4 separate regions of the Homo sapiens genome follow, and all the other regions are linked to region 4. The links come from fine-mapping of genetic effects on plasma protein levels. A gene starts in region 4. Each other region holds a variant in brackets. All regions are shown on one strand. Distances are from middle to middle.

Region 1 (5,609 bases), 26 kb after region 4:
GCGAAACTCGGAATCAAAAATAAAAATAAAAAATAAGATGGTAAAATTTGTATGTGTATTTTACTACAATTTTTTAAAATTAGAAAACAAAAACGTAAATCCTCTAGATACCAAAACCCAAGCCCCATGGAAAACATTTACCACAAAAAGGTGACAAGCTATCCCCACAAATGCCAAAATATAAGTGGGTTGGAACAAGCCACCTATGCCACCAAGCCTGCAGGCTGTCAGCAGCTAGGTGGAAAGACACAGAGGGCAGTAATGAGGTGATGACAGATCCAATAATAGGTAAATCTCAACATAGCCAACAGGTTTTCACTGGAAAGTCCATTAGTGGGTGAGTGCAAGGGACCCAAAGGGTGGAAGGGGCTTGAGTAGCCTGGGTCCCGTGAACTCTCAAAACCCCCAGCCGGGGCTCCTGATATGGTTTGGCTGTGTTCCCACCCAAATCTCACATTGAATTGTAACTCCATAATCTCCAAGTGTCATGGGAGAGACCTGGTGGAAGGTCATTGAATCATGGAGGCAGGTTTTTCCCATGCTGTTCTCATGACAGTGAGTAAGTCTCACGAGATCTGATGGTTTTATAAAGGGCAGTTCCCCTCTGCATGCTCTCTTGCCTGACACCATGTAAGATGTACCTTTGCTCCTCCTTTGCCTTCCACCATGATTGTGAGGCCTCCCAAGCCATGTGAAACTGTGAGTCCATTAAACCTCTTTACTTTATAAATTACCCAGTCTCAGGTATGTCTTCACAGCAGTGTGAAAATGGACTAATACAGCTCCCTTCCAGGACAGGGCCCTTCACCAAAGAAAAACTACTAGGAATAGAATCAAAATTGAGCAGGACAGAAACAATAGAGATGAATGAAACAAAAGACCAAATAAAAGTGAAGGAGGGAAACAAACCCAGAAAATCACAGAAAGCAAGTTACTGTTTTTAACACTAAATGAAAACAACACAAAATGGAGTTCTGAGGAGTTGCAAAAAGGTATTTTGGACAATGTCTCCTTGTAAGGCTGTGGAAAACCAATTTTACATTTTAAAAAAGCACAGAGAAAGATTAAGGCCAAACCCCATACTAGAAAGAAATTTTATATAAGAGAAGAGTGAGAGAGAGAAAGGGAATAACATCCCTACCTGCAATGAAAGCACGTCTGCAAACAGGTGAAAACTACATACAACTGACTATCTGAATAACATGAGCTAAAAGACATTTTTTAAATAATACAAATAAAGAGTAACAAGCCAAAATTAGAATAACTCGAAAATGTGGTGAAGATCTCAGTTGTTATTTCAGAAATGAAACCAAAAGAAACACAATAGCGAATAAGAACAATAGAGAATCCCTTAAAAGACTAGGAGGTTAAAAGGAGGAAAATTATTAAATTAAAAAGAAAGGAGGAATGATCAAAAGCAGCAACCACTGAAGATATGCAGAGCAGATCTAGCATACGGATAACAGGAGTCACTGAAGAAGGAAACCAAAGCAAGAAAGCAAGCCAACACTAAAAATTATAACTCCAAAAAACTTCACTGAAATACAAGAAAAATGTAGAACTACATTTTGGAAGACCAGACAGTATACCTGAGAATATGGATCTAGAATGACAAATACCTATTGATATTCTAGTGAAAACAATACTGCACTTTAAAGAAAAAGAAAAAAGGATCTAGGCCAGGTGCAGTGGCTCACATCTGTAATCCCAGCACTTTGGGAATCCAAGGTGGGTGGATCGCTTGATCCCAGGAGTTCGAGACCAGCCCAGGCAACATAGTGAGACCCTGTATCCATTTTTAAAAAAAATTATCCAGGCATGATGTCACACACCTGTAGTTCCAGCTACTTGGGAGGCTGAGGTGGTAGGACAAACTGAGCCCAGGAGTCTGAGGTTGCAGTGAGCTGTGATCACATGACTATAATCCAGCCTGGGCAACACAGTGAGACCTTGTCCCAAAAAAAAAAAAAAAAAAAACCTTTTTTAAACATCTGAGTAAAAAGATTAAATGACTTATAAGGGAAAAGATTACATTATCATCAGATCATTTGACAGCCCCTGATTTTACCACAGAAACTAGAAGCCATTGAATAATAGAGGCAATTCAGGTTTCCTTGCAAGCCATTTTTGGGCAGTGCCTTATAAGTGGTGGAAGCAAGAATTGCTGCACGTGTTCAGAGGAAGTAGCCATGACTTCCACCTAGGAGGGCTTCATGGAGGAGGTGGAATGATTGCATCTTAAAGAAATCTTGGAAAATGTTTAAACTGCCGACATCAGAATAGTATAATGCATAAACATGTGACTTACTCTCAAAATGTTCAAGTCTGTATAATGTTGAATTCATTGCACACCATTTCATGTCCATGTTTTTTCTTCATGATTTTTAGAAAAGGCACTTCATTTTTGGCTAAAGGAATTTTTTTTAATACTGAAATTTGAGTAATTGATTCTGTTAATCCAGCATATGCTCCTATTAAATAAATTGTATACAATTCAGTGACTTCATTAGAGATGATAAGCCACATACTTAAATTTTGTGATACTCCCTGATAATCTGCATTCATTGATAATTGAGACAAAATTAATCATATATAATCAAGCAAAAATGCGAACAAAATTAGCTGTCAGAAAAGCATTATCCAGTCTTTATTTTTTAGTTAACTTTAGATATTTTAACAACACATAAAATGAGTGGTAGGGTATATTTGTATTTTACTGTATAGGACACCTTCAGATAAATTCTAAAAATAATTTGCATTTCATGTAATGCTTTTCACACAAAGTAATGGCCAAACTTTAGGGTCAGTTTGCCCTGCTTCATACCACATGCAGAACAAATTTAAGATGGATTAGGACTCCAAATAGAAAAGAAAAATTCTTAATAAAAAACTATTCAAGATGGATAAAAGGATTAATTTCAAGAAAAATAAAACTAATAAAATAGAACTATTCTGGTAACCCAGAAACCATAAGAGAAAGGATTAACAGATTAGCTGCATTAAAATTTCAAATTTATTACTTATTCATTCACCCATTCATGAGATAATTGTTTTTATTGAGAACATACTATGTGCCACGCACCATTCCTGCTGCTGAGGGCACAGCAATGTACTAAACAGCCAGCATCACTGCCCTTGTGGCATGCTGTATGGCAACCAAAACCATAAACAAAACAGGAAGACAGTAATAGCCTGGAGAAGTTATTTGCAAAATATTTGATAAGCAAACTAAATATCTGTAGTAAACAAGAGCTCATGTAAGTTGATCGATAAAGCAACAGGAAAAAGAGAAAAGTAATAAATAGTGAATTAAAAGGAACAACTGCAAGTGGCCATTAAACATGTGAAGAGTTGCTCAACTTCACAACAAGTCCTGAAATGCAATTAGAACAACAATAACCTACAATGTTTCCC[C/T]GTTCAGCTTAGCCAAATTTTTTGAAAATTTCTCACTCCCACTGCTGGGAAATGTGCAGGGAAATGGGGACCTTCCTGCACTATTGCCAAGACCAGAATTCCTAACAAGCTTTTCAAAAGTAATCTAGGAGTATTTATTAAAATTAAACATTCTCATACCCTTTGACCCAGCAATCTTATTTCTGGAAACCTCTCCTACAGAAACAAAAGTGCTAACGCATAGGGACATAAGTATTAAGAATATTTATTGTATCATAGTTTGTATATAGAAGAATTTGGAACATCTGGAATATTCTTAAAGAATTATGCCCATGTTTGGGGACATTTTGCAGCTATTGGAAAGAATGAATTTGATTTATGTGTATTGAACTAATAAAGCTAATACATAATACATGGATTGTTCACTGAAAAAAAGGCAGTTTAAGCCAGGTGTGGTGGTGTACACCTGTAGACCCAGCTACTCAGGAAGCTTGAGGCCAGGAGTTCAAGATAAGCCTAGGCAACATAGACAAACCCTGTGTCTTAAAATAAAACTTTAAAAAAAATTTAAAGCAGCTTGCATGTTAATAGGTATGAAATTTTCATTAAAAAAATAAAAACTATATGTATAAACAGTTTATATAAGTTGTTGGGGGGTTAGGATTATCAGGAGGTAAAAGTAGACAACTTGCTGCTTCTTTATATATTTGTATATTTGAATTGTTACAGTGAGCATGCACTTTTGCATTTTTTAAATAGCAACAAAATATTTTAAAAGAATACTGAACCACTACATCATTGATATTCCTCATAACTAAATTTCGAAGGTTCTTTTCTTTCCTTCTTCTAATTACCAAAAACTTGATTCAAATTTAAAACTATACACTCATAGATCTAGAATGATTCTGGGGTGATATTTCAGTTCATCATTAACCTTTCCCTAACCACTTCCCTGTATCATCTTAGTCTAAGAGATTTCAAACATGGCAACTCCAAAGACGCAGGTCCCAGAAGAGCTCTCTGAGACCGCGATTTGGGACCCACACTGGTCAAAAGAGGAAAATCACAGAGCATCCTTTGTAAACTCAGCCTTCTCTCAGGAAAGTCTTTCTTATTATAACTGATATTCCTTGGGCTGAAACTCACACCTGTTCCTCCACTTCTGATGTAGAGACAAAGAGGATTCTTGACCCCAAAGGACCTCCTAGATCATTGCTTCAACCTTTCCATTTTACAGATGAAAAAACTGAGGACTAAGTAAAATGTGGGGAGAAATGGTACCAAAACCCACTTCCCCTACTTGCTAATCAGTGCATTTTCTGTTGCTCTAGTAGTACCTTTCTTTCTCACACACCAGCATCCCCGAGTCGGTTCTACAACAGTGCCTTTCACCTGGTAAGCCAAAGTCTGTTGGATGCAAACTGTTTACACAGAATCCCAAGTAGAAGCTAAGTTATCAACGTCAAAGGACCAGGAAGGCAGGGTGATTCAATTGCAAACCCAAAGCAGCAGCACTTTGGAGCCAGAATAGAACTCTGAATAGTCCTTTATTTTGTGCTGAGGACCTAGAACTTCCACTTTTCTTTCTCTGGAGCCAGACTTCATGCTGGGGCTTTGTTTTAAAATCAAGGCCCCAGCGGACTCAGAACTAAGGAATTTTTTTCACACATATTCAAAACGGAAGCCCTGCCACCATGGGGAAGCTCAAGGTCCTTGCTCAGCTTCTGCTTGTGTTTGGGCTACATGAAAATCTCTGGGTGGTGGTTGATGTTTCCCGCACCAAATGATTTCTGCACAAGGCCCGACATTCCCCCTGCCCTGATAGAAGGGTCACACCACACACCAAGAAGGATGTGACTAATAAAGAGTGTGACTTCAGAGAATTTACAAGTCCAGACAACTTCTGATAAACATTTAAACAGAGGTCAGGAATGTTTTCCTTTCTGAGGGGAAAATATGTGGTCTATGGTGTGAGTGGGAGGGGCTGGTGGGGGGTAAATCTAAGCATTAGCTTCCTCCCTTCATAATTCTTAAGCATTTTAACAGCTGTCATTTTTAATGCCCTAACAGGCTTTCAGACTTAGAACCCATAGCTGAGTATGGGCCAGAAAGCTCTGTGAAAAAAAAATGGGCAATTCCAAAGTGATTACCAAGCAAGTTTAAAACTAACATTAGGATCATTAGAGGCACTTTCCCTGGGCCCTGCCCTGAAGCTA
Region 2 (5,609 bases), 34 kb before region 4:
TGGGCGTAATCCTGGCCTCTTTATCATCTCTTTTCAGGAAGGCTACTAACTGAAATTCTTCTTCTCTAAATGAATTCTATAATGACCCAGAGCCCATATTCACTAACTTTCTTTCCTGGCTTGTTTTATGTAACTATTATAAAGGTAATACTGAACTGCTGGCATCCCACCTACTTAGTGTGTATCTGTTTTGCTCCTTCCCATTTCTACTACTAATAGAAACAGTTTGTCTCTTGTGTTTTATGACACCAAACCCTTGAAATGATCTAATGTAACCTTCATCATTGGACCCACTGGCTTTGGTAAAAACCTGCTGGGGATAGATTCTCCAAATGCTCTTCTCTCCATCTTTGAATGTATCTCTTTATCCATTGCCCCTTCTTCAATCCTATCTCAGGAAAAATACTATACCCCTTGCTCTCTGAGACATAGTATTTCCACTTCCACTCTTCCTTGGCCTTGTCCATTTTGCCTCCTGCTGTATCTTGAAATACGAACTTTTTAACCCTAAACCGCCACCCTATAAATGCTTCCTGTCCTCTGTGTTCTCACTCACAGCCTCTAAATATGCATCTGGGTCACCTAATTAAAACATCTCAACCCTCCCTCCATGTAGAAAGTGCAGACACTAATTCAATGGCTACTTTATATCCTTTAAACGATATATCCAGAGTGACAGGCACATAGCGGATGCTCACAATGTGGTCGTTCCTTTTCCCCAACTGTAGTGGATTTGTTTCTCAGCCTTCCAGCCATAGCTGAGGGAGGACAGCACAGTGGAGGGGAAACAGGCAGATCTTTAGAGTCATGCAGACAAAAGTGTCCTCCCCAGCTCCCCCACCTGCCGTCATATCTGTATAACAGTGTGGGTTGTTGACATCTCAGTCAGATTCTGCATAGTGAATTAATGTGGGGCTTTCCTTTCTCCTACCTTCAAGGGCAGGGACCATGATCTCAATTTATCTTTGCATCAATCTTCAGTTCCAAGAGACATGCCTGGCAAAAAGGAGCTATTCAGCACATATTAATGGAACCAACATGCAACAGAGATAACTGAAGATGATATTAAAAGTAATATCAGACACCATGGGGATAAGAAGGGGACGAGGGGAACTAGGTTTTCAGAAATGCCAAGAAATTCCTGGAAGTCAAGAGCAACTCTCCAGAAATGGACAAGAGAGAAAGGGTAAGGAAGGAGGTACAGTGATCACCAAAGAAAAAAGAGTAAGAAACTAAGGAATGCAAGACCAAGGGACTCTGATATTTGGTGGATTCTCTAGTCCTTTTTTAACAGGTACACTTCTATTAAAAATTGAAATGATTCTACAACATTTATATGAGGATTTTTAGTCATTAGATGCTTTTTATGTCCATTCTCTCTTATCAAAAAGGTGCAAGAATTTTCAACCTATTTCTGTTGGGTGCAGGGAGAAGAGGAGGAATAAATTGGAGGAGGGATTAATTATCTGAAAGAACATCTGGGAAACATAAGCAGGCATGGGATTCCAGAAACGATAAGAATCTCCCCTGAGGTCCAAACAGAAGGAAAGGAAGTTTCCTTTCAACCCTCTTGAAAGGACTTGAAGGGGGTTTTGCCCCTATTTTAGCCTTTGTTGTTTCAAAATAATGTAGGATTTTGTCTTCCATAGTTTTCATCATTTATTTATTTATTTTGGTGAAAGCATGTATAGAGAATTACAGAAGGGAATCCATGTATTATTTAGAACTAGCAGCTACACATAATCATTTAAACTAAAGATGGTTGATCAATAATTCTCTACACAGAAGAGAATTCTCTCTCACAGAGGAAACAAAAGGTTTTGATGTCTCAAGTCCTCTGAGATTGCACCTACAGCATTGGTCACAAGTTCCTACAGCCAAAATGCCTTTATCAGAAAGGAACATTCTAGAAGAGGCCAAGCTAATTATGACATTAGAGCCATTATCAAGAGAAGAAGCCAGTGGCTAGCAAGCTCTACGTGCTTGAAAAGACCATGATGTATTTTCTGTGTGTGTGCTCTCCTCAGAGGAATAAAAGACAATAAATGGACCAGGTATGGTGGCTCTCACCTGTAACCCCAGCACATTGGGGGGCCAAGGATGGAGGATCTCTTGAGCTCACAAATTCAAGAGCAACCTGGGAAATAAAGCGAAAACCCATCTCCACAAAAAAAAAAAAAAAAAAAAAAAAAAACACTAATTAGCCCATGTGGTGGTGCATGCCTATAGTTCCAGCTACTTGGGAGGCTGAGATGGGAGGACTGCTTAAACCCAGGAGGTCGAGGCTGCAGTGAGCCATGTTCTAAAAAAAAAAAAAAAAAAAAAAAAAAAAAAAAAAAAAAAAAAATTCTTGGCCTTGCAGGGTGGCTCATGCCTGTAATCCCAGCCTTTTGGAAGGGAGGCAGATGGATCACTTGAGCCCACAAGTTTGAAACCAGCCTGGGCAATATGGTAAAACCCCATCTCTACAAACAATACAAAAATTAGCCAGGTGCAGTGGCACACACCTGTAGTCCCAGCTACTCAGGAGGCTGAGGTGGGAGAATCACCTGAGTCCGGAGGCGGAGATTGCAGTGAGCCGAGATCGTGACACTGCTCTCCAGCCTGGGTAACAGAGTGAGACCCTATCTCAAAAAAATAAATAAACATATGCATACATACTATCTTTACCATGTTTTAAACCCTAGTAGAGTCTAAAGATGGAATTATGAATTTTTAATGTTTTCTTTTTTTGTAACCCAAATAAAACTGGGTATTTCATGATGAGTCACAATACAGTTTTGCATTCAAAAGAATCCAAAACCCAAAAGAAAACATTAAAAAGCAATGTA[C/T]ATTTTTATGGAATTCTTTTGAAGAGAGTGGGAAGAGTTACTAGATGGCATGACACTTGTGAAAACATCTTTAAAATCATATATATATATATATATTTCTTCTCAGTTTCACAGCGCACAGCTAGGCGGATACATACAAAATTTTGTCCTTCTTTCTCTCCATCTGACCCCAGCTCTCTGCTTTGGGGTCTGTTCTGTTCTTCCAATTGCTCTGGGCTCTTTTGACTAAAAATTATTTCAGTCTTTCTGTCCTTACAGTTCTGCAACCTCACATTTTCTCAGCAGAACACTAGATCCTGTCTTCCTTTGACAGGGAAGGGAATGGGAAAAGGTGTGATTACTTACACATTCATACTTTTTAATGTTACAGACTCTATCATATCTGTATTTTCTAAATCCTTTTAATGAATATGTATAACATTATAATTAAAAAGGCATATTTCCTTTTTTCAATAAAACACAGAAGGTCTTTAAAATGTACCTTAAAAGACTGTACTTCCAAGGATCATTTCTGTAGTGCATCATTAGAGAACAGGAGAAAGGGTAGAGCATCGAAGAAGGACAAAAACCATATGATCATCTCAATCAATGCAGAAAAAGCATTTGATAACATTTAAAATATCTTCATAATAAAAACTCTCAACAAACTAGGCATGGAAGGAACATACCTCAACATAATAAAGGCCAAAAATGACAAATCCACCACTAACATCATGCTGAATGGAGAAAAGCTGAAAGCCTTTCCTCTAAAAACTGAAGCAAGACAAGGATGCCCACTGTATTAGTCTGTTCTCACGAAGACTAATATGGGGCTATATTAAATTACCCAGACTTGGTAATTTATAAAGAAAAAGAGGTTTAATAGACTCACAGTTCCACATGGCTGGGGAGGACTCACCACCATGGTGGAGGTGAAGGAGGAGCAAAGGTGTGTCTTACATGGCAGCAGGCAAGAGAGTTGTGCAGGGGAACTGTCTTTTGTAAAACCATCAGATTTCATGAAACTTACTGTCACAAGAACAGCATGGGAAAACTCACCTCCATGGTTCAATTACCTCCCACCAGGTCCCTCCCACAACATGTGGGGATTATGGGAGCTACAATTCAAGATGAGATTTGGGTGGGAACACAGCCAAACCATATCACCTGCTTTCACCACTCCTGTTCACCACAGTACTGGAAGTCCTAGCCATTGCAGTCCAGCAAGAGAAAGAAATTAAGGGCATTCAAATTTGTAAAGAGGAACTCAAATTATCCCCCTTTGCAGATGACATGATCAGATATCTGGAAAAACCTAGAGATTCCAACAAAAAACTCTTAGATCTGATAAATAAATTCAGTAAAGTTTCAGGATACAAAATCAATATATAAAAGTCAGTAGCCTTTCTATACACCAATAACAATCTAGCTGAGAAGGAAATCAAGAATCTCATTTACATAGCTACCAAAAGAATACCAAGGAATAAATTTAACCAAGGAGGTGAAAGACCTTTACAAAGAAAACCACAAAACACCAGTGAGATAAATTGAAGAGGATACAAATAGAAAGATACCTGGTGCTCATGAATTTTAGAAGTTAATATTGTTAAAATAAACATGCTCCCCAAAGCAATCTACAGATTCAATGCAATCTCTGTGAAAATACCAAAGTCATTTTTCACAAAAACAGAAAAAATAATCCTAAAATTTATGTGGAACCAAAAGAAATTTATATGGAGCCCAAATAACCAAAGCAATCCTGAACAAAAGGAACATAGCTAGAAGCATTACACTACCTGACTTCAAAATATATCACAAGGCTATAGAAACCAAAACAGCAAGATATTGGTATAAAAACAGACACATAGAACAATGGAACAAAATAGATAACCTAGATATAAATCCATGTATTTACAATCAGCTGGTTTTTAACAAAGGCACCAAGAACATACATTAGGAGAAGGACAGTCTCTTCAATAAATGGTTCTGGGAAAATTGAATATCCATATGCAGAAAAATGAAACTAGACCTCTATCTCTCATCTTATCCAACGATCATCTCAAGGCCAGGCACAGTGGCTCACGCCTGTAATCCCAGCACCTTGAGAGGCTGAGGCAGGAGGATTGCTTGAGCCCAGGAGCTTGAGACTAGCCTGGGCAGCATAGCGAGACCCTGTCTCTACCAAAACTTAAAATTAAAAAAAAAACTTAAAATCAACTCAAGAGAGATTAAAGACTTAAATGTAAGACTCAAAACTACAAAGCTACTTGAAGAAAACGTAGAGGAAACCCTTCAGGACTTTGGTGAAGGCAAAGATTTTATGGCTAAAACCTCAAAAGCACAGGCAACAGAAACAAAATAGACAAATGGGTCTATATTAAACTAAAAAGTTTCTGCGCAGCAAAAGAAACAATCAACAGAGTAAAGGGACAACCTGTTGAATGGGAGAAAATATTTGCAAACTATTCATCTGACAGGGGATTAATATCCAGGATACACAAGGAGCTCGAAAAACTCAACAGTAAAATAATAATAATCCCATTAAAAAGTGGGCAAAGAACATGAATAGACATTGTGCAAAAAAAGACATACAAATGGCCAATAGATATATTAAAAAATGCTCAACATCACTAATAATCAGAGAAATGCAAATTAAAACCACAATGAGATGCCATCTCACATCAGTCAGAATGGCTCTTACTGAAAAGACATAGAATAACAGATGCTGGTGAGGCTGCAGAGAAAAGGGAACATTTGTAGATCATTGGTGGGAATGTAAATTAGTCCCACCACTATGGA
Region 3 (5,609 bases), 61 kb after region 4:
TATTCAAGGCAGGCCAGCGTTTTCCTGCCTCTCCTCAGGCAGGTCCCTGTCTTTCACCTTCCTTGATGAAAGTCTAATTTCTGAAATGAAAAGCAACAGCTCATACTTACTGAATGTTTACCCCATGCCAGGTACTGTGCTAATGGCTGTATCTTGTTTGATCCTTTTGATGGTCTAATGACTGGGATACTATCATTCCATTTCACAGATGAATAAAGCAGGGGAAGTGAAATAACTTGTGCAATGTTGCATAACTCAGGAGTGGTAGAGCAGAATTCCTGATTCCAAGTCCACGCTCCAAAGTCACTATAGTCTATTACCTCCCAGCATTTTGTTCTTACTCTTAATGCGCTAAGCCTCCCCAACACCACCCCAACAGATTATATTTAGAGAAGAGGAAGCAGTTCTTACACACTTTTGCCCTAAACAGTGTTTGGCAGGGTCCCATTATTATAAACTATTGGTTCTTCATTCACACTAAAGTGGAAATGACTAACAGTAGCTTCCATAACTAGATGAATTTGCCTTAAACTAAAAGCCTGAGATTAAATCTGGCCTATGCTGCTTAAGCTGTTGTACTTTCTTCTCCTCCCCTGCTGTCCTCAGCCAGTACCCCTGAGACCGTGTGCTAGATTCCCATACCAGGGTTCAGCTGCTACATCATCCCGCCTCTGGAAGTTCCCTAAATGACTTGCCTTGGCAGATGGCTCTGCTCTTTAATTAGCCATACAGTTACTGCTTCCCCTTATTTAATATCAGGAAGCTTCCACTTGTTTCATCCCCTTCCCCATCTTGGCCATAGTGCCTTCCTACTATTCTTTTCCCGTTTTGTACTTTTGTGTGCTCCTGTTCCCTTTAATGTGTTATCAGAATCTCATCTCAATCTAGGGATTTTTGCCAAGTTGTCTGAACTCTCTATCTCCATATGTGGTATCTGAGGTCCTTCTTAAACCCTGATTTTCCCCTTATTTGGTATTAATGCACACACTATTTTCAGGACCCAGCATCAAGAGTCAAGGTGAGTGTTGTTTGCAAATCTATCATAACTCGGAGAAGTCCCCATACTCAAATGTCTTAGCCATGTTAGCATGTACTCAGCAAGAGGCCATGAACAGTGGCTCATGCCTGTAACCCCAGCACTTTGAGAGGCCGAGGAGGGAGGATCACTTGAAGCCAAGGGTTCGAGACCAGCCTGGGCAACAAAGCAAGACCCTGTCTCTACAAAAAAAAAAAAAAAATTCTTTTTTAATTAGCCGGGCATGGTTGCACTTGCCTGTAGTCCTAGCTCCTTGGGAGGCTGAGGCAGAAGGACCCATGAGACTAGGAGTTTGGAGTCTGCAGTGAGCTATGATCGTAGCACCATTGCACTCCTGCCTGAGTGACAGAGCAAGACTCTGTCTATAAAAACTTTTGAAAAGCCAGGTGCAGTGGCTTATGCCTTTAATCCTAGCTCTTTGGGAGGCTGAGGCAGGTGGATCACCTGAGGTCAGGAGTTCGAGACCAGCCTGGCCAACATGGTGAAACCCCATCTCTACTAAAAATACAAAAATCAGCCGGGCATGGTGATGGCTGCCTGTAATCCCAGCTACTCAGGAGGATGAGGCAGGAGAATCGCTTGAACCCACAGGGCAGAGGTTGCAGTGAGCCGAGATTGCACAACTTCACTCCTGCCTGAGCGAAAGAGCGAAACTCTGTCTCAAAAAAAAAAAAAAAAACTTAAATAAAAATAAAATAAATGTTCAGTGAGAACCATAATGTGAATAGTATAACCCAGCATGATTTTGGTGTGAGGATAATTGATAATCATTTTCTTCCAGCAGACCTACCCATCTCGGTGGGATTTGCTTCAAGTGATGTATATTCAAATTAATTTGCATCTCCTGGTCATATACTAATTGGTTGGTGAGTGGTTAGTAGCCAAGAAACACTGCTTATGGCAAGAGAAAGTCAAGTGAAAGATTAAAGAAAATCATGATTAATAATCTGCCAGCTGATAAATAAGATAGTTATAACACCACTTTGGTGAGGTGTACGCTTTTGGCCATGTGTACACTGGTGCATTTTCAAGACAGTGGCTATCTTTTCACTTCTGTTTGGCTAATCATGTTATGTTGTTCTGAAGTTACTGCTGCCCTATACCCACTTCACACAGCCTGAGCTCTGTCTCCTTCCAATGAACATGAAGATCTTTTGATTCCGTAGTTCCTGGTTCTGTTCTGATTCCGACAGGATGCTGGCATCCTCAATTAGGCCAGCTAAGGAAAGCATTAGAAAACAGTGATGCACTACACTCTGTGGAACTTACCGAAACCAACAGGATTTTAGAGAAGAAATAAGGGGGAGCCTGAAGCTGTCAGGCCGCAAAAAATGTCAAAGAGAAATGAAACTTCAGTCTTAGAATGTCAAATAAAGTGTGATAAGAAATAAGAGGAGGGAAGATATTCCAAGTAGGTAAGGGCATCAGCATAAGCAAAGGTGCTGGAAGGGGTAATGAACATGTAATGGTGGGTGAGCAGGACTGCTGGGAGCAGACAGTGAGTTTGGGTAGAAATGACATAGAAGAGTGAATTGGTAAAAATGGAAGAGATGATGGGCAAATGAGAAAGCAACGAAGCAAAAAATATATAGTACAATATGATATTGGAGGACAGAAATGATTATTGGGGGTAATTTGACTTTTGACCATTTCCCAGGCTTAATTCAAGTATATTTAGCTTTCAAACATGACTTCTCCTAATATCTTCTACACAGCTCTTTCAGATGAAAAAAAAATTGGCTAACTGGGTAAAGGGTGATACCTTTATAAGCTCTATTTTTTTAATCCCTGAGGAAGTGAACCATGTTATGAGTCACATACATCGTGTTTAGGTAGGTGAGGAAATGCATTGAACTGATTTGCAGAGAATGAGAGCTCCAGACCCAGACAGTGAGACTTCAGAACTTCATAAATGTCAAAGCATCTTTGACATCTATGTCCCAGCTCTAGGACACATTCATGATAGGTTCACTTACTTCCAAACCCAAAGAGGATATTCTTAGACACTTCCTAGTTTCTTCATCTTGTAAAAGTGGTTAAGTGGCTTGTCCAAGGTCTTTTGGCTATAAATTGTAGACAAGGATTCAGAGCCAAGTGTTCTGTCCCCAAGAATGCTTTTGTCTCTTTTTTTTAAATAGTAACATCATGAGGACATCTCAGGTCATGGCTGGGGAGTGCTTTGTGCTCTGTAAGGGACTAGGAAATTGTTCACA[T/A]ACTTCTTCAATATTGTTCCTGCTGTGCTTTTTATAGGATAACACATTTTAACTCTGTCCTCACTACCAAGACTTTATATAAAATCAGCTGGAATGAATTGCTGGTCAAATTCAAAATTAATTTCATGTCAAAGTCTTTTCCTCATGATATTTGTGTGTTTTGTGAGAACTGCCTTTCTTAAATTCTTCTGAACCAACTCATAATACTCCAAATTTAAATCCATCCATCTATAAAACTACCTTTTCTGTATCAGTAGTACTTTTTCAGAACATACCTATTTCTAGATTATAATCAAATATTCTTAAAATAATCTGGTAGTCTGTGAGTCCTTTGTCTAGAACTTAATTAAAAGTGGCAAAGGAGGCCGGGTGCTGTTGCTCACTCCTGTAATCCCAGTACTTTGGGAGGCCGAGGCAGGTGGATCACGAGGTCAGGAGATCGAGACCATCCTGGGTAACACGGTCACCCCGTCTCTACTAAAAATACAAAAAGTTAGCCGGGAGTGGTGGTGGATGCCTGTAGTCCCAGCTACTTGGGAGGCTGAGGCAGGAGAATGGCGTGAGCCCAGGATGTGGAGCTTGCAGTGAGCCGAGATGGCACCACTGCACTCCACACTGGGCGACAGAGCAAGACTCCGTCTCAAAAAAAAAAAGGGGGGCGGAGGGGGGCAAAGGAGAAGCCAGGCATGGTGACTTACACCTATAATCCCAGCACTTTGAGAGGCCGAGGCAGGCAGGTTGCCTGAGCTCAGGAGTTCAAGACCAGCCTGGCCAACATGGCAAGACCCCATATCTAAAAAAATACAAAATTTAGCCAGGCGTGGTGGCACACACCTGCAGTCCTAGCTATTTGGGAAGCTGAGGTGGGAGGATTGTTTGGGCCCAGGAGATTGAGGCTGCAGTGAGCCATGTTCGCACCACTGTGCTCCAGCCTGAGTGACAGAGAAGACCCAGTCTCTAAAAAGAAAAAATGTAGCAAAGGAGGAGTATGCAGACTTAGGTGGAGATTCTGCAGGAGACTTCTAAGTACTTTTAAGGTGATATGATTCATTAAATTGAATTTTAATTTACTTTATTTTTAATGTTTATTTTTTATTTGCATAAACTTATGGAGTACAAATGTAATTTTGTTCCAAGGATGTATTTCATAGTAGTGAATTTTTGTTTTCTTCCAAGGTTAGAACTTTCTTCTTCCTTGCTATAACTTCCTTCAGGATCTGGCTATCTTTCTTCATTTTTTCTTTCTTCTCCTTCTCCTTCACCTCCTCTGTATTAGACTGTTCTTATGCTGCTAATAAATACATACCCGAGACTGAGTAACTTATAAGAAAAAGATGGTTAATGGACTCACAGCTCCATGAGGCTGGGGAGGCCTCACAATCATGGTGGAAGGCGAAGGAGGAGCAAAGTCACATCTTACATGGCAGCAGGCAGGACAGCATGTGCAGGGGAACTGCCCTTTATGAAACCATCAGATCTCATGAGACTTAGTCGCTATTACGAGAACAGCACAGGAAAAACCTGTCCCCATGATTCAATTACCTTCCACCGCGTACCCCCCAACCCATGACACATGGGAATTATGGGAGCTACAATTTGAGATTTGGGTGGGGACACAGTCAAACCATATCATCCTCTCTCCCTTCTTTCCCTTCAAGGAATGTTCAAAAAGAAGAGACCCTCTAAGGAATGATCAAAAGGAAGAGACACTCTAAAGTTACTGAGCGAGAGTTATAAAAAATAGGGAAGGCAAGAAAATGAATTTAGAGGGTTGAGAAGGATCTAAAGAGATTGAATGAGAATTAATTGAGTGTGTAAGGTAAAAGGAAAGTGGGGTAGCCTGGTTTGGGTACAGTCATCTGGATAGAAAAATGTAGGTAGTCCACCTTGGGTGGACATCTCTTTACATCAGGCAGCACTGCAGATGACTTGGTTGCTTTCTGGAGTTGCCGAGGGTGGGTACAAGGCAGAGGGAGGCAGCGCACAGTCATTTATTCTATGAACAGGATGTTTGCTAGACAGATGTTTGAGCAGTCTGGAGCTCTTAATGGAACAAGGGCAAGGATAAATAAATAATTGGACCTATCCTGATGTTTGTCCCTATACATTTAAGAATTCTGTGACCTGTTTTAAACGGAATCCAAACACTGAGTATGAGTTAGATGATAATGTTGTTATTACCCTTGACCTGGCCTTGAGGACTGATTTTGAGCTTTCTGTATGAGAAAATTAGCTCAGAGTGACCTAAAAATTTCTTTATTCTTAAAAACAGAAATAAATTCTCGATCTGCCTTGCCCTTCTTGGAAGAAAGGTAGAGTGGAAAGAGTTAGAAGTTATTTGGTACAGAGTCATTGAGTAC
Region 4 (5,609 bases):
ATAGAAAGGAATTTCCTCAACCTGGTAAGACTGTCTATGAAATGCCCACAGCTAACTTCATACTTAGTGGTGAAAAACTAACAACTTTCCCTCTAAGGTGAGGACTGGGACAAGGGTGTCCACTCACCTCTTCTATTCAACATTATACTGGAGGTTCTAACCAGGGCAATTAAGCAAGAAAAAGAAACAAAAGGCACCAATTAAACAGGAAGAAGTAAAAATATCTCCATCTCCACATCCAGCCTCTCCACCTCACTAAAACTGAAGCTGAACAGGTGACAATATATCTGTTATTGGAAGGGTGGAGTTGTCAACTTGCTCTTTAAAGGCTCCATTCACCTGCCTTTTTTCTAACATCTCTTCTTGTTTTCAGGTCCTCCAGCTCGACTGGCACTATCACAGAGCTCGGGTTCCCCTTTCAGTGACCAGAAACTTGCTTGTTTTCTTTGCTTGCTGGGCAGTGAGGAGGTTCCTCAAAGGGACTCCGCTGTAGCACATGCTTGCATTCTCACTGTTGGCTCTGATGCAGGACCTCCACACACTGTGGGTGACAGCTCTTAGTGTACAGCTGCTGCCACTGCCCACCCACATGCCCTACACACGCAAACACACACACACACACACACACACACACACACACACACACAGTTTGTAGAGCCTGAGGGCTTCTTCTGGCTGCGGAGATAAGCACCTTTATTGGCTGTCTTCCCTTCCTGCTTGCTCACCTGCCTGCCCCAACCCTCAATCTCTGTGTCCTGATGTGGCTTCTCAGGTGACCTACTTGCACTGGAATCCTTGTCTCAGAGAAAGCTTCTGGAGAATCTAAAACTATGACAGATCGTCATACTAGATCATGGAACCAATTTAGTGGCTCTTGACCAGTGAATTAATAAAAAGGAAATCAGGGCCGGGCATAGTGGCTCACACCTGTAATCCCAACACTTTCGGAGGCCGAGGCAGGTGGATCACTTGAGGTCAGGAGTTTGAGACCAGCCTGGGCAACATGGTGAAACCCTGTCTCTAGTAAAAATACAAAAATTAGCCGGGCATGTTGGTGCATGCCTGTAATACCAGCTACTCGGGAGGCTGAGGCAGAAGGATTGTTTGAAGCTGGGAGGCAGAGGTTGCAGTGAGCCAAAATCTCACCACTGCACTCCAGACTAGGCGACACAGGGAGACTTCATCTCAAAAAAATAAAAAAAAGAAAAAGAAAGAAAAGAAAAGAAAGAAAGAAAGAAATTAAATACAATAGGAAATAGAGTGCACTCTGCATTTGTTTCCTTTTCAAGAAAACAAATGGGTCATGTAAACTGCATCTCTTAGGATGGAACAAAGACAAAAATATTTAGGGAAACTCTGCTGTAAAGATTTTTCATTGTTTTTTAAACAACTGTCAGGTCAACATATGACCTTTGAGGGGAAAAAAAATGCTCCACTTGTCTATAATACACTAAGGAGAGGCCAAAAAGCAGTGCTAGGTTTTTCTGGATTGGAGGATGTTTCCCCACTCTCCACCCCCCGATTTTGTGGTCATTTAATTTTCAAAAAATTTGCAATAATTATCCTTGTAAGAGTCTGTTGAGAATGAGTTCTTTACACTGCTAATGGGATTATGAACTGAACTGCTGGCTTTCAGTCAGCAACCCTGTAAATCCCTGGATTTATGCTAAGAAAAAAGAACACAAAAGAACCACAATGTGACATGCAGAATAATGCACGCTGCAATGTTACACATTCAGTTAAAAAGTGAAAGCAACTTCCATGTCTGCATTGGAGAGGCCAGTGTTCCTGGGAAGAGAGGCTTTCAAGTTGAGTTTGCAGAGCACTTCGCAGAAAGACTGAGGAAGAGTCCACCGTTTATATCAAAAACCTCCTGGAATGCTGGTGAAGACTGGGGGCGCTTTAGGTGCCTCCGTGGCAGCTCCAACGAGGAAGGAGCTGGGACCCCTGCTCCTCTCAGCTGCGCTCTGTTCTCCCGAGAGGCTTGCTGGAGGGCGAGCAGTTCAGCAAGAACTCAAAACAAGGGCACAGCTCTCACACGGATTCCAGTACTCACTGAAAACGGCTCAGCACAAAAAAAGCACAGAGTCTTGTTGAATGCCACTGGGAGACAAAGCGGGGAGGGAGGTGCAGGCAGTTAAGAGGTTCCAGAAAGGGAAGTGGTTGGCAACGGTTTGTCCTTTTAGTGCTTGACACCCAAGACCACAGCAGGCCTGTGGCCAGCGGGGACACAGTCCACAAGTGGGGGTTTTTAACAGCTTGTTCTTAAGAGAGCTTCCCAAACCACAGAGTAATGAGCACTCAGGTGTCTCAGGCCCACGGAGGATTTAATAGATGAAACCCTGGATCGTCTCGAAGCCGTGGTTGTTAAGAAGTTTAAATATATTGACCGGAAACGGGGAGAAACCAGAGGGTGGAAGAGCCGCTCGCACTGCGGTGCGATCCCTGAGGGCTCGGGGCAGGGGACTGGGGACCGAGCAGGAGCTGGCGGGGTGAGCTCTGCGAAGCGGGCGTGAGACCGAGCGCCCATGGGCCGGTCACGCCGGGTGCCCGCTCACCCCCCGACGCCAGCAGGAGCGCGCGCGCAGGCCCCGCGGGGCCGGGAGGGCGGCACGGGCGGGGCCCCCGTGCTCTCACCGCCCCGGGGTGTGGTTCCCGCGGACAGGCCGGGCGGGGCGGCGGGTTTAAGGCGCCGGCCGGCCCGACACGGCTCACTCGCGCCCTTGCCGCTGCCACCGCACCCCGCCATGGAGCGGCCGTCGCTGCGCGCCCTGCTCCTCGGCGCCGCTGGGCTGCTGCTCCTGCTCCTGCCCCTCTCCTCTTCCTCCTCTTCGGACACCTGCGGCCCCTGCGAGCCGGCCTCCTGCCCGCCCCTGCCCCCGCTGGGCTGCCTGCTGGGCGAGACCCGCGACGCGTGCGGCTGCTGCCCTATGTGCGCCCGCGGCGAGGGCGAGCCGTGCGGGGGTGGCGGCGCCGGCAGGGGGTACTGCGCGCCGGGCATGGAGTGCGTGAAGAGCCGCAAGAGGCGGAAGGGTAAAGCCGGGGCAGCAGCCGGCGGTCCGGGTGTAAGCGGCGTGTGCGTGTGCAAGAGCCGCTACCCGGTGTGCGGCAGCGACGGCACCACCTACCCGAGCGGCTGCCAGCTGCGCGCCGCCAGCCAGAGGGCCGAGAGCCGCGGGGAGAAGGCCATCACCCAGGTCAGCAAGGGCACCTGCGAGCAAGGTGGGCACGAGCGCTTCCCTCTCCAACCCTGCGCCGCTCGGCCCAGCGAAGGGCACATCCGACGGGGCGTCCGCGGCGGCCTCGCCCCGCGCTGCTCACTGCGATTCCCCCGCGGGCATCCCAGGAGCCAGATGGGAGGGAAAGAGTTGGCAGCCGCGGAATGCCAGGAGCGGTGGGCGACGCCCCCCCTTCTCCTTTTTGGTGGTTTTATTTTGAGAGTTTGCTGCGTGCGTCCAGAAAGTGAGGGCCGGGTGTATATGTAGAAAAGATTTTCCGAGACCTCAGACTTCCCCATGCCCAAAGCGCACCCAACTCGTGCTAACATCTGTCCATTTCTCATCATTCTTGGCTTGGGGATGTAGAGAGAGGTGAAGTCAAGAGATGGGGGAAAGGAGTTTGACAATTAAATATAAAGTAAGGACTTCCAGACAGACTTTTTTTTTTAAAAGATAGGATCTTGCTCTGTCGCCCAGGGTGGAGGGCAGTGGCACGATCTTGGCCCACTGCAACCTCTGCCTCAAGCGATCCTCCTGCCTCAGCCTCCCAAGTAGCTGGGACTATAAGCCTGTGCCACCACGCCTGGCCAATTTTTGGTTTTTTGTTTTGTTTTGTTTTGTTTTATAGCGACGGAGTTTCACTATGTTGCCTAGGCTGGTCTCGAACTCCTGAGCTCAAGTAATCCCGGCCTGCTGGGATTACAGGCATAAACCACCGTGCACAGCCCTGATTTCTTAGTATTGAAGAAAATAGTCCACTTTCTAAAAATTATAGGTTCTCAAACAGTAATCTAACTAGCTAATTATTTGTGGGCAAAAATAAAATACAAACTCTTTGAAGACTGTTTTTGTGATGCACTTTGTTGTCAACCTTCTGACCATTTTGTTTTTCCTTCCTATTTCTTTGATTTGTATTGTTTTGCATAATTTGTCCCCAGGATACACTGTTCAGCAGAAATGTCTTTGAGATTATGTTTGATTGTTTATTTTATTCCAAACAAGTCCAAGCTTGCTGTAAATGAAATAAGGAAATAGGCCGGGTGGGTTGGCTCACGTCTGTAATCCCAGCACTTTGGGAGGCCAAGATGGGCAGATCACGAGGTCAGGAGTTCGAGATCAGCCTGACCAACACGGTGAAACCCCATCTCTAATAAAAAATATATATATATACATTAGCTGGGCATGGTGGTGCATGCCTGTAATCACAGCTACTCAGGAGGCTGAGGCAGGAGAATCGCTTGAATCTGGGAGGCGGAGGTTGCAGTGAGCCGAGATCACATGACAGCACTCCAGCCTGGGTGACAGACAGAGACCCCATCTCAAAAAAAAAAGAAAGAAAGAAGAAAATAAAGTCTGGACTTGCAAATACACGCACATACACACACACATAGAAATTTTAACTCTAATGCCTGAAATAACATTTTCCATTGGCAGTATTTTCAAGGGAAAGTCAGACATTCAATGTTGGCAGCTCCTGATCTTAGCCAAGGTAGAAAAGGGAGAGGAGGCAGTTCTGAGGTTACAGAAGCTGTTGCTTCTTTAACACAGTTCAGACTTTCTCCAGAATTTCCAAATTCTTTCTTTAGAGCTTTTCCCAGAAGTCCACAAACTAATAGGTTGTATGTCATCAATTTCAGAGTTCACTATTGAAAGCCTTAAATTGTGTAACTCACTAGTAACTATTTATAGTATCATCACCTTAAACTTAGAAAATTGCAACCCAAAATAATCTGCATATGTTTACAATAGAAACAGTTATTTGTTACTTTGGATCTCATTTGTCGGTCACATCATGAAAAGATAAATGTGCGTTATTTAAGAATTTATTCCAAATATTGAGATTTTCTTATAAACATTACAATGGGGAACTTTATAGTTTTTTCAAAATGGCAGATACTTGCCTTATCAGAGCAGAAGGTTAGCTTGGTGATTGTTCAAGTGTTGTCAATTTCTAGTTTATACTTAATATTCCTTTTTCTCACCTGCTACTTACATCACCAAACACTCACACAGTCTGATTATAAAATATTGAGACTGACAGTCATATAGAACCAGTTTCATAACCTCATTACCATGTACACCCAGCTCAGTACCTCTCCAGACTGCAAACCCTTTGAGGGTTCCGGCCCGGCTTTTCTTTATATTTGGGGAAATGTTAGAGAAAACAGCATCTAAAACTGGAAACCTTGACTTAAATTAGCCATTTCTTCTCATCCTAAATTGAGAGAGATGAGTTCTAAATGGCAGAGACCATTTATAGGAGAATGCCAAAGAGAGCAGAAGAGAATGGGAAGCCTTTCCCACAGCAGAAACTTTCCACAGCAGAGACAATAGACTGATCCCTATCACATCCCCTAAATATTTCTTCTGACACCTGGATGGGTTTTGACA

Which allele goes with the higher level. Positions count from the first base shown, and alleles are read on the strand shown. Strength reflects both the effect of a copy and how common the allele is. Not every link is listed here.
With allele T in place of C in region 2, the plasma level of the protein whose gene starts at base 2,714 in region 4 is lower (moderate association).

The links. PIP is the chance, under the fine-mapping model, that this variant and not a neighbour inherited with it causes the effect. Protein levels are from antibody-based Olink assays in UK Biobank. Linkage for the fine-mapping came from a reference panel and not from the study's own genotypes, which makes the PIPs less certain.
Region 1: its variant is fine-mapped to the plasma level of the IGFBP7 protein (UK Biobank, PIP above 0.99).
Region 2: its variant is fine-mapped to the plasma level of the IGFBP7 protein (UK Biobank, PIP above 0.99).
Region 3: its variant is fine-mapped to the plasma level of the IGFBP7 protein (UK Biobank, PIP above 0.99).

What each region holds. Positions count from the first base shown.
Region 1 is chr4:57,081,157-57,086,765 of GRCh38, reverse strand. The region is part of intron 1 of IGFBP7 (insulin like growth factor binding protein 7); the gene reads left to right. Among named protein-coding and RNA genes, the nearest start is that of IGFBP7-AS1, 26 kb to the left of the region's middle. The variant C/T (reference allele first, on the strand shown) is at 3,415.
Region 2 is chr4:57,141,873-57,147,481 of GRCh38, reverse strand. All of the region lies in intron 1 of IGFBP7-AS1 (IGFBP7 antisense RNA 1), which reads right to left. Among named protein-coding and RNA genes, the nearest start is that of IGFBP7, 34 kb to the right of the region's middle. The variant C/T (reference allele first, on the strand shown) is at 2,832.
Region 3 is chr4:57,046,352-57,051,960 of GRCh38, reverse strand. All of the region lies in intron 1 of IGFBP7 (insulin like growth factor binding protein 7), which reads left to right. Among named protein-coding and RNA genes, the nearest start is that of IGFBP7-AS1, 61 kb to the left of the region's middle. The variant T/A (reference allele first, on the strand shown) is at 3,250.
Region 4 is chr4:57,107,490-57,113,098 of GRCh38, reverse strand. IGFBP7 (insulin like growth factor binding protein 7) reads left to right here and starts at 2,714. Exons shown (of 5, transcript NM_001553.3): 1 at 2,714-3,222. The coding sequence starts at 2,748. It overlaps IGFBP7-AS1 (IGFBP7 antisense RNA 1), which reads right to left and starts at 3,337. Exons shown (of 5, transcript NR_034081.1): 1 at 3,129-3,337. RefSeq lists a silencer at 2,576-2,645.